Linked DNA regions of Homo sapiens: all the other regions are linked to region 2. Evidence: fine-mapped expression QTL. A gene starts in region 2. Each other region holds a variant in brackets. All regions are shown on one strand. Distances are from middle to middle. Region 1 overlaps ESPNL (espin like). Region 2 holds the start of KLHL30 (kelch like family member 30). Region 3 overlaps UBE2F (ubiquitin conjugating enzyme E2 F (putative)).

Region 1 (2,756 bases), 25 kb before region 2:
CTTTATTGCCCCGTGTATGGTCAATTTTTATCAACGTTGCATATGTTCTTGGAAAGACTGTAGAGTTTGCAGACTGTTCGCTACATGTCCATTATGTCATTGTGTTCTTCAGATCTCCATAGGTACACATTTTAGTTTACTGGATTTCAAGTGGATCGAGAGAATTGTGTGAACATTCCTGGCTATTATTCTGGATTTGTCTGTGTTTCCCTACAATCCTGTCACCGTTTGTTTTATATATTTTGAACCCCATATCTAGTCTGTTTTATCTGATATATGTATACACATGACTTTTCTTTCTATACTTATTTGATGGTGAAGCTTATTCATACTTTGCTTTCGGCCTTCTGAATCCTTATGTTTGCCAGTACCTCTGGTTAACCATATGCAGTCATGTTTAATTTTTTTCATCAGCCTGACAGTCTTTACCTATTGGTGCATTTAGACCATCTATAGTCAGTATAATTACTAATGTTTAGGGGTTTATTTTTACTCTGTTATTTTGAGGAGATGTGATCTGGCTGCCTGGATTTTTCTTTATTTAAAAGTAGTAAGCACAGTTGTTTTTTGTCTGTTAGTTCTCAGAGCTTTATTTCTATTTCTTTGTGGGCTGGGTCTTCTGGTTCTTGTTCATGGTATTTTATTTCCTTGTATTTTTATTTTTGTTGACATATGCTGACATGAAAAATGAAGCGTAGGCATAACTGGAGGCCTTAGCAATATCTTATTTGCCTTTGCTGGGCACATGTGGGCCTAGGATCATCTTAATCCGCATTCCAGGCAGGAAGTTCCCAGGACCACCTCCGTGACAGGAACCAGGGGCCTGGCTGGCGTCTGGCTTCCATTTTCTCTGAGGGTGGAGCCCTTGGCCACATCGGGAGGTGGTCAACCAGAGCCCCCACCCCTGATGGAACCCGCACGGTTCCTGGCCTCCCTGGTCCCCTGAGGCTGCGGGAGGACGGCACATCATATAACTGTTCTTCCGTCGTCAGCCCAGGCTCAGGGCAAGAGCAGTTCTGAGTGCTGGGCTCCCCGACACCCCTCACCCCCCAGGCTTTCCTTTTCTCCTGAGTGTGGCCGTGTCACTCCTGACTTCTGCGTTACCTTACTGAGGCTGTCAGCAGGTGACTTTTACAGTGAATCCGTGTTTCACGTCCTTGGGCAGTGGGTTGGTCTGACCCACCTGGTTCTCTCCTCCCTGGAGTGGATCCATCTGCTCACCTGCTTTTCCACTGCTGTGGCCTCTGCACAGACTTCCAGACAGAGTTCTGTCTGTCACTACCCACCCTCTGCTGACAATCCCAGCGGTGATGGGGTCCGTCACTCTGGGGGAGAGGTTCCCTTCCTCCTCCCCATGG[C/T]TCTGTTCCTATCAGGGCTTTGCCCTCTCTCCCCAGCACCATTTGGGGCCAGGTCTGACACTTGTCCCCCTTCCTCTGCCGTGACACCCCTCATACTCCTGCAGACCCCGTAACTCCCCTCCTCCGCATCCTGGCCTCCTCTTCCCAGCAACAGCTCCTTGGGGACGCTCCGCCTCCACCCACCCACACACCCACCGCGCCCTGGCAAACCTTTGCCATTCCCCCAGCCCAGAGCCTCCGGGAGCAGTGCCTCTCTCCAGCGACTGGCTTCAGCGACCTGCCCCAGCCTCCCCAGCCCCGGTGTCCTTGCACATCTGACAAATGCTTCCTGCTTCCTCAGCCACACCAGCCACTGGCTCAGCCCTTCTGGGCCTCCAGGAGCCTTCAGGCGTTATCTGGTTCAAGCCTCCCAGCAGCCCCCGGGGAAGGGGTGTGCGCACGCCTGATTTTGTGTGGCCCCACAAGCTCAAAATAGTTTTTCCCTTTTTAAATGGGGAAAAGGAAAAAGAATCACATCTCATGACACATGAAACTCATCTGAAGTTAAAATGTCAGTGCCCACAAATAAAGCCTTGTGGGCACCCGGCCACGCTATGGGTGGCAGCTTTCGCACCACGACCAGGGTTGCATATTTGTGCCAGAGCCGGCGGCCCCCGGGCTGAGCTGCTTACTCTCTGGAGGGCAGCACGGCACCCAGGAAGGCAGGCAGTGCGTGAGCAGACACCCCAGTCTGCAGCTTAGAGGCGCAGGGTCATCATCCTCAGGCAGTGACAAGCCCTGTGGCTCTGCGGTTCTGGCGCTGGTCTTGCGGCGGTTCTGGCTCCGGTCTTGCGGTGGTTCTGGCTCTGGTCTTGTGGCGGTTCTGGAGCTGATCTTGCGGCGGTTCTGGCACTGGTCTTTCGGACCTGCAGGGATTCCAGGGAGCAGGGCTCTATCTTTTTGTCCACCTTCCCCTGGTGGCGCTGTGGCCTCCTCAGGCTGTGGCCACCTTGGAGGCCATGGAACTCAGGGCAGAGGAGGGAGGGGAAGGAAGCCCTCCAGAGGATTCCCCCAGGACAAGGCACTCGCCCTCGAGGTCTCAAGCTGACCTGCTAGCTGCGCAGGTGAGTGTCGGTAGGGGCCGGGGCAAGGGAGGCTGGTGGTGCCGACCATAGATCAATGCAGGTGTCCTTACTTTACAGACAGGCCCAGTTAGCTGGCCAAGTTCTCTGACCAGCAAGTCACAGAGCCAGATGAGCTCAAGGCCACTGGACTTCGCTGCCAGGCCCCCTGCCACACACGACAGCGTCACGTTGTATTTACTCACGGCATGGCACACCCGCCGCTCCACATGCATGCTGAACCTGTATTTATCTGTAGAGAATGAACACTAATTGCACCTTTTATAGGTGAGGCACT
Region 2 (2,756 bases):
GCTGGGCTGAGCTATGGCTGGGCTATGGCTGGGCCAGGCTGGGCTGTAGAGGAAGCATGGACTCAGGGAATCTCTATGGAAGGTAACCCTAAGGGCACCTTGCAGACTTGGCAGTAATTTGTAGGTGAGCTTCCCCTCCATAGGCTGTGTGCATCTCAGGACCAGGAGTGGGGTTCTGTCTCCCTGGGGGCCGCCTGGACCTCTCTGGTCTGTAAGAGCATTAGGACAATCCCTAGTAGCATCAAGAGGCCACAGCCAGACCCAATACTCCCCAGTTCCTCCAGGTCGCAGCACACCTGGAAATGGTCATACTGCTCAGGCCCACATGGCCGATGGGTAGAGGGCTGAGGGCTGAGGGCTTCTCTCCCATGCACCTGAAGTCCCTCAGCCACAAAGCTCTGCTCTGGTCACTGGTGTGAGAAATGTCCAGTGGCCTCTTGGGTCCCCAACTCAACCCACCTGACCTTGGTCAGGGCCTGTGGTTCTGAGCCCATTTCAGTCCCAGGCGTGAGAGCTTCCCCCTGCGACTACCGTGAACCAAGTGCTGGACGGGAGGCTGATAGTCCACTGCTGTATTTTTAGGTGACCCTGTTTCTTAGCCGTCCTGGGCAGCCCCGAGGCCAAGGCCATGGGGTAGCAGGGCAAGGAGCCCCAAGATCTCCCCTATCCACGCTAGCTGGGCGGGGCAACTGAGTGTGGCACCTCCCCTCTCTGGGCAAAGTTTCCCTACCGCCACCATGGACCCCAAGCTCGGAAAGCCTCTGCTGACCAACCTGTGCTTATTCATGATAATCACGTTTTCCCACGTGACAACAGAACAAGAGGACACATAGGTGCCGCTGACATCAACAGCGAGGGCAGCACCTGTCGGTGTCCTGGCCCTGGGCTGAGGGTCTCTGTGACCCCAGGCCCCCACCACGGGCTCCACTGTACTCAACTTGTAGACGAGGAAACAGGTGGGGAAGCTGCATCCCTGCCCCCACCAGCCAGCCCAACCGCGACAGCTTTCACCTGTCCTTGCCCTGGAGCCCTTCCTGATGTCTGTCCTAGGCCACAAGTCCCTGGAAGGCCTCAGTGGGCTTTCTGAGCTAACAGTCACCAAGGAGCCGGCATCTCACTCCTTCCCCCACCAGCCCAGCCCTCACTGCCTGACCCTCCCCTCGCCCTGCAGACAGAGGCTAAAAATACCCTCCCCACGTGGCCACCAGACCAGCCCTGCCCCGCCCTGCAGGCCTCCGTGTCCCCTGGCTGCCGGCTAGGCAGTCCTGCTCTCTCGGGTCTGTGTTCTCAGCTTCGAGGTCCAGGCTGAGTGAGAGGTAGGATCCAGGGGGCTCTGGGGCAGGGGACAGCAGAGAGGGCAGGGGGAACCCAGCCAGGAGCAGCGGGGAGGGTGGGTTAGGCCCCCGAGGCCAGGGATCACAGCAGGGTGCTTTGGAGACGCCCCCTGGCCCTTGCCAGCGGCCAAGCCAGGCTCCTCAGGGTGGGGGCTCAGGAGACAGGTTTCCCTCCATGTCCCAGCCGGAGAGGTGGGAGGGGGAGGCTGGGCCACCCCTCAGATGGCAGCCAGGGCCACTCAGCCACAGTCGCCAGCCTGGCTGGGCTCAGGCCTTTTGTTGTCCTGCCCACTCGGCTTCCTCACTCCGGGCCTGGGCAGGCACTGGGGTGAGGCTCTGAGACCCTCAGGAAGCCCCGACCCATGCAGGGACTGCAGGGTGACAGGTGTCAGCAGGCACCCCGAGGCCCCCAGGGGAAGTGGGGGCGCTCATGCGTGCCTGCCCATCGCCCGGCAGCAGCTGGCCCAAGGGAGCACAACAATGACGGGAATGTGAGGCCTGCAGGCGGTGGCCCAGGGACAGCCCTGTCACCTACTCAGGCCCCAGCTCATCTCCCGGCTGCCCAGGGAGGGCAGAGCCGCCTTCACCGGGGCCAGCGCCTCCTGGGGAGGGGCCAGGCAGGAACCCCATGCATGCAGTGTTGGGTGGGTACTTCGTGTACCGGCCGGGATGCTGGGGTGTGGGGCCCCGGCCACGTGAGCTGCCCTGTGCGCGAGCCCGGGTTGGTCCGCGAGGCCCTGTGGGCTCCCAGGTGCTTCCCCGCTCTGGGGTCAAGAGGTGGCACCGGGGTCGGGAAGTCGGGGAGCCCTAGCTCCCATCGCCTGCACCTGTACCTGCACCGTGGCTGCCCGGGCCAGATTCTTGGCCTCCTGGTTCTCCAGCTGAGCTTTGTCATTTCCATGCGTGGCGTTCCCACGCATTTTGTACCTGTGGACGCGCGGCCGCCTCTCCTGCCCGGGATGGCCCCGCGAGGCGCCCCCTAGCGGGCGAACGGCCTCTCCGCTGCGCAGCCTTTCGCCCTGGGGTGACCCGGGTCGAAGGCTTGTGCACAGACTTGATCTCTCCTAGGGATGGTTGTCTTAGGGTGCGATACCAGAAGGACATAAACCACATGCACATAATTACATGAGCCTGAAAGCGGCCTTGCTGACTTCAACCATGCGGGCGTGGTGACGCGAAACCCTCCAGAACGCTGCCTTTGGCTGGCCGTTTCTGTTTAGCAGCCTCCACCCGGCCACGTGGAATGCAGGGTTCAGAGCCTGGGCCCCCAAGCCTAGCTCTGAGTTCAAATTCCAGCTCCACCACTTCCTAAATGTGTGATCTTGGGCAAGTGACTGAAACCTTCTGTGCCTCAGTCTCCCCAGCTGTAAAAGAGGCAATGATTGCACCCACCCTCCAGGACTGTTGTGGGGCTGAGTGGTG
Region 3 (2,756 bases), 160 kb before region 2:
TGGAGACAGAGTTTCACCATGTTAGCCAGGCTAGTCTTGAACTCCTGACCTCAGGTGAGCCACCCGCCTCTGCCTCCCAAAGTGCTGGGATTACAGACGTGAGCCACTGTGCCTGGCCTTACTTTATCACAGGTGTTTACATTTCTTTAAAATTTTTTTTTTTTTTTGAGACAGACTCTTACTCTATCACCAGCCTGGAGTGCAGTGGCGTAATCATGGCTCACTGCAGCTTCAGCCTTCTGGGCTCAGGCGATCCTGTCACCTCAGCCTCCTGAGTAGTTGGGACTACAAGCGTGCACCACCATGCTTAGCTAGTCTTTTTATTTTTTATTTTTTTGTAGAGATGGGGTTTCATTATGTTGCCCAGGCTGGTCTTGAACTCCTGGGCTCAAGTGATCCACGCACCTCGGCCTTCCCAAAGTGTTGGGATTACAGGTGTGAGCCACTGTACCCGTCAAGTGTTTACATTTCTTACATGTAGAGCAGCTAGAAAGCAAAGGGTTGATTAGTGTATTCGAACTCCCTGTTTTCATGTTGTATTAGGTTGACAACATGGAGATTGCAGGCATTTACGTGTCCTGAAGAATCTAACAGCAGAAGAGCTGGTGTATGTAAATGTGCTGTGCTTGGCCTTCCCAGACACAAATCACTGTTAAACTGGGGAAGGAATGGGAACTGTGAGGGCACTGGGTTTGTGGGGACTTAACAGTGTCCTCTTTTTCTTTTTTAAGACAGAATGCAGTGGCATGATCTCGGCCCACTGCAACCTTCACCTCCTGGGTTCAAGCGATTCTCATGCCTCAGTCTCCTGAGTAGCTGGAATTACAGGCACACACTACCACGCCCAGCCAATTTTTGTATTTTTAGTAGAGACGGGGTTTCAACATGTTGGCCAGGCTGGTCTCAAACTCCTGACCTCAAGTGATTGCCTGCCTTGACCTCCCAAAGTGCTGGACTAACAGGCATGAGCCACTGTGCCTGGCCTGTACTCTTTTTCTTACTCTCCTTCTGCCCCTGAGTTTGGACTTAGTTTTGGATTATCCAGCCTGATGATTGGTTGAAAGTGGAGTGAGAATGGTATTTCACATTTTGGCCTTACCTACTAAGCCTGGGAGAATAGTAGATTGTATTCAGCGTCTGTTGTGCTGGAGGCTTTACCCTAAGAGGCCCAGAGGGCGGGGCAAGAGCTGGAGCACCTTACTTGGGTGTGCCTGATAGGACTTGAGTGTCTTCTCAGATTCCGGGCTCCATCTGCAGCACAAGCCAGGAAAATGGTGTGTTGTTGCTGTACTTGGAGTAGACAGTGAGTGCTTCAGTGCCTGAGGAGTTGCAGCAAGGAGGGCCTGGATGTCAGCTGAGGAGGAGTGGGTAGAAGCTGACAAACAGACTGTCCCATCTTCTTTACCCAATCATTGTCATGGTTAATAGTAGCTAATAGGAGCTTTTGTATACTGAGCACTTAGGGCCAGGCCCTCTGTTGGGCACCTTCTTAGTTCATTTGTGCTGCTGTAACAAAATGCCACAGATTGGGTAATTTATAAACAATAGAGTTTTGGAGGCTGGGAAGTCCAGGATCCTAGTAGGATTGGTATCTGGTACAGGTAGTTCTCTGCTTCAAAGATAGCACCTTGTTGCC[G/GT]TGTCTTCACATGGCAGAAGAGATGGAAGGGCAAAAAGGGCCTAAGCTAGTTTCCTCCTGCTCTTTTATAAGGCCCTGATCCATTTATGCGGCAGAGCCCTGATGACAATCACTTCCCTAGAGGCCCCACCTCTTAATACTACCACAGTGGGGATTAAGCTTCAGCATGAATTTTGGCCCCATTCGAGCCATAGTAGGCACTTAATGGGGTAATTCTTGTTTGACTTTTCAAAGCCTTGCCAGATTGATCCTTCATTTTACCCATAAACTGCTGAGACTCAGGTTAAGAAACTTGCCCAGTTTGCGGGTTTATTGCAGCAAGACAGCCAGACCCACATACTGGGGTAGGACAGGCTCTGTGGGGGCAGATGCGACAAGCAGAAACCAAAGTAGCAGAATAGAAGTGCAAGTCCACAGAAAAGAGAGTTCAAGGAGGCTCTGCGTCTCCATGTCTCCTGCCCTGCTCAGGAACTCACCCTGGAGCTCTCTGCCGGCTCCAGGGCTGACAGAGCCCACTAAGACCTACCAACCTGGGCGCCCCTCCAGCTCCAAGGAAGGAAATATCTTTGGCTGGGTTGACAGGGCCCAGCTGAGGTTCTCTGACCTTGTGCAACCCATCAAGAACAAGAAGGTCTCACAAGGAGAAGGGTCTCACAAGGAGAGGTGCAGAGCCAACGCTTGAGGCTACCATTTCCATCCTCCCCAGGCACTGGTAGCGATTAAGTTTCAGAGTCCAAAGCACTGGCGATAAATGGCAGTAGAACTCAGTGTAACCTCCCCTCTCGTGGCCTTTCCTTCCACTCACCTCAGGGGCTGCAGGCCAGGCTGAGTGGTGAGTAGTTTGGGCTTGTGGTGGAGTTTGTGAGGTGAGGGTAAAGAGAAGGGTGGGCCTGATCTGAGAGAGGTGGCTGTACACACAAAGTGCAACAAGAGTGCCTGATGGTTCATGCTTGTGGGGTCCGCCCCTAGAGTGCTCCTTTGTTTAGCTTGCTTTGTGGGTGGCTTGTTGACCCTGGTGGCAGTCTGGCCTTCTATCCTCTGGGGAGTTATGGCGGAAGTGGTGCTGTGGAGGCTGCTGTGGCTGTTGGAGGGCATGGCAAGGCACTTTGAGGGGTGATAA

What was found. PIP is the estimated chance that this variant, and not a neighbour inherited with it, causes the effect.
Region 1: its variant is the best candidate, but not a certain one, in a credible set for the expression of KLHL30 in whole blood (TOPMed, PIP 0.63).
Region 3: its variant is the best candidate, but not a certain one, in a credible set for the expression of KLHL30 in whole blood (TOPMed, PIP 0.66).

The regions. Positions count from the first base shown.
Region 1 is chr2:238,112,885-238,115,640 of GRCh38, forward strand. The region is part of intron 4 of ESPNL (espin like); the gene reads left to right. Among named protein-coding and RNA genes, the nearest start is that of ESPNL, 14 kb to the left of the region's middle. The variant C/T (reference allele first, on the strand shown) is at 1,359.
Region 2 is chr2:238,137,443-238,140,198 of GRCh38, forward strand. It overlaps KLHL30 (kelch like family member 30), which reads left to right and starts at 1,226. Exons shown (of 8, transcript NM_198582.4): 1 at 1,226-1,316.
Region 3 is chr2:237,974,954-237,977,709 of GRCh38, forward strand. The region is part of intron 2 of UBE2F (ubiquitin conjugating enzyme E2 F (putative)); the gene reads left to right. All of the region lies in intron 2 of UBE2F-SCLY (UBE2F-SCLY readthrough (NMD candidate)), which reads left to right. Among named protein-coding and RNA genes, the nearest start is that of UBE2F, 9.3 kb to the left of the region's middle. The variant G/GT (reference allele first, on the strand shown) is at 1,637.